Linked DNA regions of Homo sapiens. The protein of the gene in region 1 interacts with the protein of each later gene in a pairwise test. Each region holds a gene or a part of one and is shown in the gene's direction. Other genes may lie near its edges. The genes, in order: ELOVL3 and MUC20.

Region 1 (4,493 bases):
GCCATTCTCCTGCCTCAGCCTCCCGAGTAGCTGGGACTACAGGCGCCTGCCACCACGCCCGGCTAATTTTTTGTATTTTTTAGTAGAGACGGGGTTTGACGGTGTTAGCCAGGATGGTCTCGATCTCCTGACCTCATGATCTGCCCGCCTCGGCCTCCCAAGGTGCTGGGATTACAGGCGTGAACCACCGTGCCCGGCCGAACCACTGAAGGTTTTTAAGCAGGAAAGCAGAGCTGTTTTCTGGATGAGCAAACAGAAAGTAGTGGTTTTCCAAGTACAGTCTGAGACAACCTATAGGACCAGAATCTCTGCAGTTGAGGCTCAGGAATCTGGTAATCAGCCAGGTATAGGAACTCTTTTCTGATTGCAATGCAGTGAAGAGCAGAAGCACTGTATTAGAGAAAGAGGCAGTGCAACCAGGTAACGTGACCAGGTGAGAAGTGATGAGGTACAGAGACAAAGAGATGCACTTTTGAGTCACTTAGATGGCACTGATAGGACTTCCACTACACCCTCGCATAGACAGTGGCTGAGGTTCAGGAAATAGAGCTGGGGTTCCTACTTGGATCCTCTGGCTCTAGAGCTTTACTGCACATAGCCATTTATACCCACATCTTGATTTTAATTATTTTATATCTATGTTTCTTAGCACTTTTTGCAAATTTCCACCTTATCTCAAACTGCCCTCAAGCCTTGTATTTCTCCTTCGCTTTCATAAAACCTAGGAAAGAAATAAGGGACAGCCAAGTAAAACTTTTAAAAGTTTTAGAACATTTATTTCTTTGGGGCTGGTTACACAGGCGAGAAAGAAGTAGATTTGGTTAGGGAGAGAAAACAACAGGCCTTGGGGAGATACACTGGCTCTCCCCCTCCCTAAACCCTAAGAGGCCTCCAGGAAACCTGAAGACAATAATTCCAGAAGCCCAGAGGGTGACCCCATTTCCTCTCTCCATGGTTATTACTGTCAGTCTGGAGCAGTTCAGGAATTCAGGAAACTATAAAGAAACCACAACAGCCTCAACAACCCAAACATCAACATCAACAACCTCAACAATAAAACTCCTTAAAATTCATCTCCTTCCACCCACTCACAACCGCAGACTCGAAGCTAGGAGGTGGAAGGGACTACAGAAGCTCTGCGTTGCCCAGGTTAGTATTTGCTCATCACAGGCCTGGGTTTCCCAGGATCTCAGGGAGCCTGGAAACTGACGCCTCCATTTCTGGGTGGGAGCACCAAAGCCTAAGGACACCTTTCCTCTCTCTTCACTGCTAAGCAGGTCAAGATTAAAGCAAACCGAGGCAAAGGCCACGGTTGACAGTTCCAAGGGAACCCGCAAGGCCGCACAGGATGGGGTGGACGTTTTACGGGAGAAAAGGCTGGGGAAGTGGGCGGGCGATGGCCTACGACGGGACTTGGGGCGGGGTGTGCGAAACGCCTGGCAGGCGGGCCCTTGAGTATGACCAATCAGAATGCGGACTGCGTCCCAGGGGCGGAGCAGAGGCGTATCTTGGTCGAGATTGGATAGCGGCGGGGCGCAGGAAAGAGGTCGCGCCAGCCCGGGCAGGCAGCTTTGCAAGTCCGCGTTATATATCGCAGTGGCTGCGCCCGGGATAGCTGGCTGCGCCGCCGCGCACATGCCTAGGTTCGACGCCCTCCTCCCTTTGCCCAGGAGTTCCTTCTGTCCCGGCTCTGTTCCGTCTCGCCCCGAGGTTCACGCCATCCTCGGAGCCCCAGCCTTTCACCCAGCGCCTCCAAGCTTTGGACCTTGACTTCTGCAAAACTAGATGGTCACAGCCATGAATGTCTCACATGAAGTAAATCAGCTGTTCCAGCCCTATAACTTCGAGCTGTCCAAGGACATGAGGCCCTTTTTCGAGGAGTATTGGTGAGACTTTGGGAGAGGGAAAGGCCATGCCAGGGCCCCGGGGCCGGGGCGCGAGGGGGTGGCATTGAATGCCCACAATGATTTTCTTACAGAGCAGAGTTATGGGACTCCCTTGTACTGGCTTCACACTACCTTTGTCCGAGGTGCAGGTAGTATGTGGCACCTCAAAGAGATTAGAGCTGAAAGCAAGCAAGCAGAAATAAGAGGATGAGGGAGAACGTGGAAATATACAGAAGTCAAAGAGAGCGTGTAGTGAGAAGGGTCTTGGAGGCGTGAGGTTGATCTGAAGCCTTACTAGATGACTTCCCCGTCCTTTGTGGCTGTGTGTGCGCGCGTGTGTGCACAGTGCAGGGCCCGGGGGACAGCCTGCCCTTTACAATTATCCCATCGTTCCCCAGGTGCTCCACCGTTCCTGCTGTGGAGAAGGAGGCGAAGTCAGAGAGCTCTTCCAAGCTTTCCCCAGGAAGAGCTCTCTGGCTTTGCCTTAAAGCTCCCCAGAGGTTTTGGAGGCTGACTTTATGCTCCAACCAATTTGCCATACCCCAGCCAGGGAGAAGCTATTGCCACATTCTTCTTACGCCACAGCCCTGGTATGCTTCTAGGAGCCCCAACCAGGGAGAAGCTATTGCCACACTTCTTACACCACAGCCCTGGGCTGCTTCTAGGCGCGGGCCAGACAGCCGTCACCCACCTCTAACCCCACTGAGAGAGCAATAATCACAGAAACCTTGGACATAGCTCCTGCCCTGTGCTAGATACTTTGTATACGTTAATACCCCCAGGAGAGATGTAGTATTCGCGCTCTACAAATGAGGAAGCCAAGGCTCAGAGAATTAAGTTGGTTTTTCCAATGTCACATAGCTAGTAAGTGGCAGAACTGGGACTCCAACCCAGAGCACTCACCTGGAGAGATGAGTGGGCATTTCTCTAATCAGCACCCACCCATGAGCCCATCCCTCTGCCTTCTGCTTGCCAGGGCAACCTCATTCCCCATAGCCCTGATCTACCTGGTTCTCATCGCTGTGGGGCAGAACTACATGAAGGAACGCAAGGGCTTCAACCTGCAAGGGCCTCTCATCCTCTGGTCCTTCTGCCTTGCAATCTTCAGGTAAGACCCCATCCCACTCCCTGCCTCTTCTCTAGATCTTAGACCACCATTCTATCCCTTGAAGCTTTCCCGATTGCATCAACCTCCATCCTGTCCCCAAGTTGCCTTGTAACACTCTCCCCATCTCATTCTCGGCTTTAGTTCCCCTCCCAGCCTTCACCCTCTTCTGTTATATTATCCTGTTTTCCTTCTCTTTTAGACCCCTACCTGGTGGTCTCTGCTTTGTCCCTCTTGCCTTCGTAGAGTCTGTACTCGCAACTAATTTCTCCAGCCTCTAATAGTGTCACCTCCTAACACCCTCTCTCAAGACCCTCCAATAACTTCCCCATATTTTCTCCCCCAAACTCCTTCAGTCTTCCCCTATCCCTCTACACATCTCCTCCCAGGCTCCTAACCCCTCCCAAGAACCCCATTCCTTAACTCAACTTTCAGTCCCATCCCCCTGCATTCCCTGATCTTTCTCCAGCCCTCGTCTCCTCTAGACTACTGATTGGATCTACCAGATTGGCTTCAGGATCTCAGGAGCTTTGACCCACCCCCTGTGGACAGGTGGGGAGGTGGTAGAGCTTGGAACACAGTAACCTGGCCAAGCCGGGGGAAGGGTGGATTATTGGTGCCTGGGGATGACACTTACACCATCTTCCTTTGTCCCATTTCAGTATCCTGGGGGCAGTGAGGATGTGGGGCATTATGGGGACTGTGCTACTTACCGGGGGCCTAAAGCAAACCGTGTGCTTCATCAACTTCATCGATAATTCCACAGTCAAATTCTGGTCCTGGGTCTTTCTTCTCAGCAAGGTCATAGAACTCGGTGAGTGGCAAAGCTTTGTCTTTCTGGTGCCTTGTGAACTGCATCCTTCCTCAGGGCCCTCCCTTCACCCATCCCATGGAGGGTCTCTTTCCTACCCTTGGGTCCCAATAATACCTCTCACCCAAGCCCCTCTACAGATTCTCTGCCACAAAGACCCCCTTCCCTCCCCTGAGAATTTCTCCCGTGTCCCTACATCCAGTGCAGAGGGTGGTCCCAGCACTGGGTGGTATGCCAACTATGACTCTCCATCTCCCAGGAGACACAGCCTTCATCATCCTGCGTAAGCGGCCACTCATCTTTATTCACTGGTACCACCACAGCACAGTGCTCGTGTACACAAGCTTTGGATACAAGAACAAAGTGCCTGCAGGAGGCTGGTTCGTCACCATGAACTTTGGTGTTCATGCCATCATGTACACCTACTACACTCTGAAGGCTGCCAACGTGAAGCCCCCCAAGATGCTGCCCATGCTCATCACCAGCCTGCAGATCTTGCAGATGTTTGTAGGAGCCATCGTCAGCATCCTCACGTACATCTGGAGGCAGGATCAGGGATGCCACACCACGATGGAACACTTATTCTGGTCCTTCATCTTGTATATGACCTATTTCATCCTCTTTGCCCACTTCTTCTGCCAGACCTACATCAGGCCCAAGGTCAAAGCCAAGACCAAGAGCCAGTGAAGGT
Region 2 (4,503 bases), on another chromosome or scaffold:
TCTCTGCCTGCTTTAAATTTGCTGTTATTTTTCTATTAAGATAAAAAACACTGTTTGGATCAGATAGTTTTTCTGTTTGTAAACTGGTGAATTTGTATTTATTTCATGGCTAAATTTCTTTTTTTCTTTTCTTTCTCTTTTTTTTTTTTCTTTTTTTTTTTTTGAGGCAGAGTTTCACTCTTGTTGCCCAGGCTGGAGTGCAATGGCGTGATCTTGGGTCACCACAGTCTCCTCTTCCCTGGTTCAAGTGATTCTCTTGCCTCAGCCTCCCGAGTAGCTGGGATTACAGGCATGCACCACCATGCCTGGCTAATTTTTTGTATTTTTAGTAGAGATGGGGTTTCTCCATGTTCGTCAGGCTGGTCTCCAACTCCTGACCTCAGGTGATCTGCCCGCCTCGGCCTCCCAAGGTGCTGGGATTACAGGCGTGAGTCACCGCGCCCAGCTTTCATGGCTAAATTTCTGAAGTAAAAGCTATAGGATCTTTGTGTGTGTGTATATATTTAAAAGGCCTTTATAATTTCTATAATTTTATGTTTAATTGGCAATTAAATCTGTTTTAATTTCCCTCCAGCACACCAGACTTTTTCTCTCCATACGTTATGATGTAAATTTTGCTATTCGATTTTCACCTCAGTTTCCTTAAAATGCAAATTCAAGGCTATTTAGCTGACAACCGCTTAGAGTAGTAAAACAGGTTATCAAGAATTCGAAGGTGTGGCTGGGCACGGTGGCTCACGTCTGTAATCCTAGCATTTGGGAGGCTGAGCCGCAAAGATCTCTTGAGGTCAGGAGTTCAAAACCATCTTGGCCAACATGTTGAAACCCCGTCTCTACTAAAAATACAAAAAAAATTAGCCAGATGTGGTGGCAGGTGCCTATAATCCCAGCTACTCAGGAAGCTGAGGCAGGAGAATCACTTGAAGCCAGGAGGCAGAGTTTGCAGTGAGTCGAGATCAAGCCATTGCACTCCAGCCTGGGCAACAGAGTGAGACTCTGTCTCAAAAAAAAAAAAAAAAAAAGTAAAAAAGAATTTGAAGGTGTAAGAAAAAAGCTCTTTATGAATCTATAAGATGAACTTCTTTCAGCATACCTAATACATCTGTGTATTTATGTGTTGTTGTGTACACAGTGTTTTGCTACTGAAAATATATAAAAGAGCTCTAATTAATTGGCTTAAGAAAATAAAAGCACTTGGCTGGGTGCAGTGGCTCATGCCTGTACTCCCAGCACTTTGGGAGGCTGAGGTAGGTAGATCACCTGAGGTCAGGAGTTTGAGACTAGCCTGGCCAACATGGTGAAACCCCATCTCTACTAAAAATACAAAAATTAGCCCGACGTGGTGGTGCGCGCCTATAATCCCAGCTACTCCAGAGGCTGAGGCAGGAGAATTGTTGGATCCCGGGAGGAAGAGGTTTCATTGAGCTGAGATCTCATTACTGTACACTCCAGCCTGGGTGACAGAGCAAGACTCCATCTCAAAAAAAAAAAAAGAAGCTAGTGATTCCATATCTTCAAATCAAATTTCAGTGGAGTGTTTACCGGGCAAGGAAGGCAGGGGGGTCAGCTTGCTGACAGCCTCAACCTGCCAGCCCTCAGCCTGCACATTTGTGATCACCTGGTCACACACCTGGGCAGGAGGCTGCCCCTCCTCCCTGGTTTGAGGAAGCAGGAAAAGGTACCCGCGAGAGACAGCCAGCAGTTCTGTGGAGCAGCGGTGGCCGGCTAGGATGGGCTGTCTCTGGGGTCTGGCTCTGCCCCTTTTCTTCTTCTGCTGGGAGGTTGGGGTCTCTGGGAGCTCTGCAGGTAAGGAGGCCTAGAAGGGCCTGGTGGGCCTCTCCCCTAGTAGGGCTCTGGGAGTGAATTTCAGTATGAGCCACCCTTCATGGGCAAGGGCAGGCTCTCTCGGGTTGATTATAATGAACCACAGTGCTACTTGTGAAGTGCTATTATTGTTGATAAAGAGTGTGCAAATGACAGTGTGAGTGTAAGCGTGCATGGCGCTGCAGTACACACTAATCAACCATGACGATGTGTGTGAGTGTAAGCGTGCCTGGCGCTGCAGTACACGCTAATCAACCATGACGCTGCCATCGTAAGGGATGGCTGAGAGTTTGTCTTTATGAACGTGGGACAGTAAGTGGGGCACGGAGCGGGGGTGCAGGGAGGTGCCAGCTGGTGATCATTGTGCAGAAAGCTGAAGAATGTGGCTTAACAAGATTCTGACTCCTCCCAGTTTATTACCTAGCATGGATTTCCTTCAAAATACAGATTTCGTGTGAAAAGTCCAACTGCCACAAACTGCTTGGGAAGGGTGGATGCTGACAGGCAGGGCTTTTGTGAAAGACGGGAATGAACCCTGACCTGTCGCTAATAGGAGTTGTGCCAAACTCATCACATACATTAAAAAATAGAAAAGGATTTATTTTTTTTTTAGTTCTATGCTCCCTCTAAACCTCGAGTGGAGAGGCCGGGCGTGGTGGCTCACACCTGTAATCCCAGCATTTTGGGAGGCTGAGGTGGGTGGATCACCTGAGGTCAGGAGTTCGAGACCAGCCTGACCAACATGGAGAAACCCCGTCTCTACTAAAAATACAAAATTAGCCGGGGGTGGTAGCAGGTGCCTGTAATCCCAGCTACTCGGGAGGCTGAGGCAGGAGAATTGCTTGAACCTGGGAGGTGGAGTTTGCAGTGAGCTGAGATCGCACCCTTGCGCTCTGGCCTGGGCAACAAAAGTGAAACTATGTTTCAAAAAAAAAAAAGCTGCAGTGGAGAGTCTGGAGTTCCCATCCCCACCACTCACAGCCTCCCCCATCATCAGCGTCCCCCACCAGAGTGGCACATTTGATAGGACTGAGGAACCTACTTTGATGCATCATTATCATACATTGTATTTTTAATCCTCACAACGGCCCTGCAAGATCGGCCCTGTTTTTACCACCCCCCACCTCCACTGCTTTAAGGGTGAGGCCACTGTGCTTCTGGGCATCCAGTAACAACTCCTCGGAGCCAGAATCTGACTCCTCACAGGCCTGAGCACTGCACCCCGTGGCCTCCTGCCTGTGCTCACCGTGGCCTGGTCTGCGCTGCACGTGTCCCGTTAGCTCCACCTTACAGGTGCGGAAATGCAGGCTTGGAGCTGAGAGACTTGGCCAGGGTCACAGGGCAGAGAGCAGATTCTCCAACTCAGGGTCCCAAGTCCACACGCTTTCCTCTCCACCAGATTTGAAGATTGTACCAGGAGAGCCGCAGTGTTCCAGAGCTACTGAGGGGCTGGGCTGGGATTTGCTGTATTCGAGAAGACCCCCTTGGACCCGAGAGGCTGTGGGCTTGGGGAGCATGAGGAGGTTTCACAGCAGAAAGGACACCCCGGGGCTCCTGGATAAGCCAGAAAATGTGCCAGGGGAAGTCGGGCTCCAAGGGCACCACTCTGGGCTTCCAGCTGTGTGGGCTGGACCAAGAAGGCTCAAAGAAATGATCTCAGGCTTGAAGTGGGGAGAAGAAACTGTATTATGAAGGCAGACGAACAGTTCCTGCAAAAGTGAGATTTGTGTGTGCAGCTGGGCCGCACTGGACCAGGGATGAGAGTGGGTGCCCGGGACTCGCCTATACTGCCTGGGGGTGCAGCCCGCACTCCTCACTATAGTCAGATCAACTATGCGTGCTTTCCAGTGGCCTGGGAGAGGACTCCATAGGGAGGGATGCTTACCTTGTGGGCTTTGGAATATAAGCCCTTTCACCTTCTCCGCTGGTCCTCATCACGTTGGCAAGGCAGGTATTGTGACCCTGTTTTCTCAGGTGAGGACATGGAGGCTGGGAGGGGTCTAGAGACTGGCCTGGCTAGTAGGAGGCTGAGTCAGGATTTGAACCAGCAGATCATCTGACCCCGGAGCCAGTCGTGGGCGGCACAGCGGGAGCTGCAACCGAGGCTCTTGACTCCTGCGTCGTCATTCCCTGAGGTCCACAGGACAACCAGTTGGGGACCTGGGGCCCCATCCTGATGCCCTGGGGAGAGGTGCTAGGCCCCTTTTGGGTCTATGGGCTACTTTTGGGCCAGTGGAGCTGGGTAAAGACCATCTCAAACCCTGTGCCAGGGGAGGTCAGACTCCAAGAGCGCCACCTTTGGGCTTCCAGCTGTGTAGGCTGGACCAAGAAGGCTCAGAGAATTAGGGGGTTCGTATTTGATCCTTTTCCTTCCAAGACTGGGATTACCAGATAAAACACAGGGCATCCAGTTACATTTGAATTTCAGGTAACAATTTTTTTTAAGTGTAAGTATGTAGCCAATATTGCATGAGAAATACTCATGCTAAAAAGTTATTCGTCGTTTATCTGAAATGCAAGTTCAAATTTAACCGAGTACCCTGTATTTTTATTTGCTAAATCTAGAAACCCTCTCCAAGAGGCTCCTTGGCCCACTCACAGGGAGAGCCCGATCTCCCTCTAGACAGGGGAGGCCCCCTTTCTCAGGCCAGAAAAGATCTTGTAGTAAACTACTCAAGA

What was found.
Region 2: the proteins of ELOVL3 (region 1) and MUC20 interact in a two-hybrid assay, tested with the Homo sapiens proteins (one large-scale study listed by BioGRID and IntAct).

What each region holds. Positions count from the first base shown.
Region 1 is NC_000010.11:102,224,764-102,229,256, forward strand, and holds the start of ELOVL3 (very long chain fatty acid elongase 3), read left to right. Parts: upstream 1-1,535; 5' UTR 1,536-1,785; coding exon 1,786-1,886; intron 1,887-2,862; coding exon 2,863-2,994; intron 2,995-3,653; coding exon 3,654-3,805; intron 3,806-4,061; coding exon 4,062-4,489; 3' UTR 4,490-4,493. UniProt on the Homo sapiens protein: Catalyzes the first and rate-limiting reaction of the four reactions that constitute the long-chain fatty acids elongation cycle.
Region 2 is NC_000003.12:195,719,278-195,723,780, forward strand, and holds the start of MUC20 (mucin-20 isoform a precursor), read left to right. Parts: upstream 1-1,700; 5' UTR 1,701-1,730; coding exon 1,731-1,806; intron 1,807-4,503. UniProt on the Homo sapiens protein: May regulate MET signaling cascade. Seems to decrease hepatocyte growth factor (HGF)-induced transient MAPK activation. Blocks GRB2 recruitment to MET thus suppressing the GRB2-RAS pathway. Inhibits HGF-induced proliferation of MMP1 and MMP9 expression.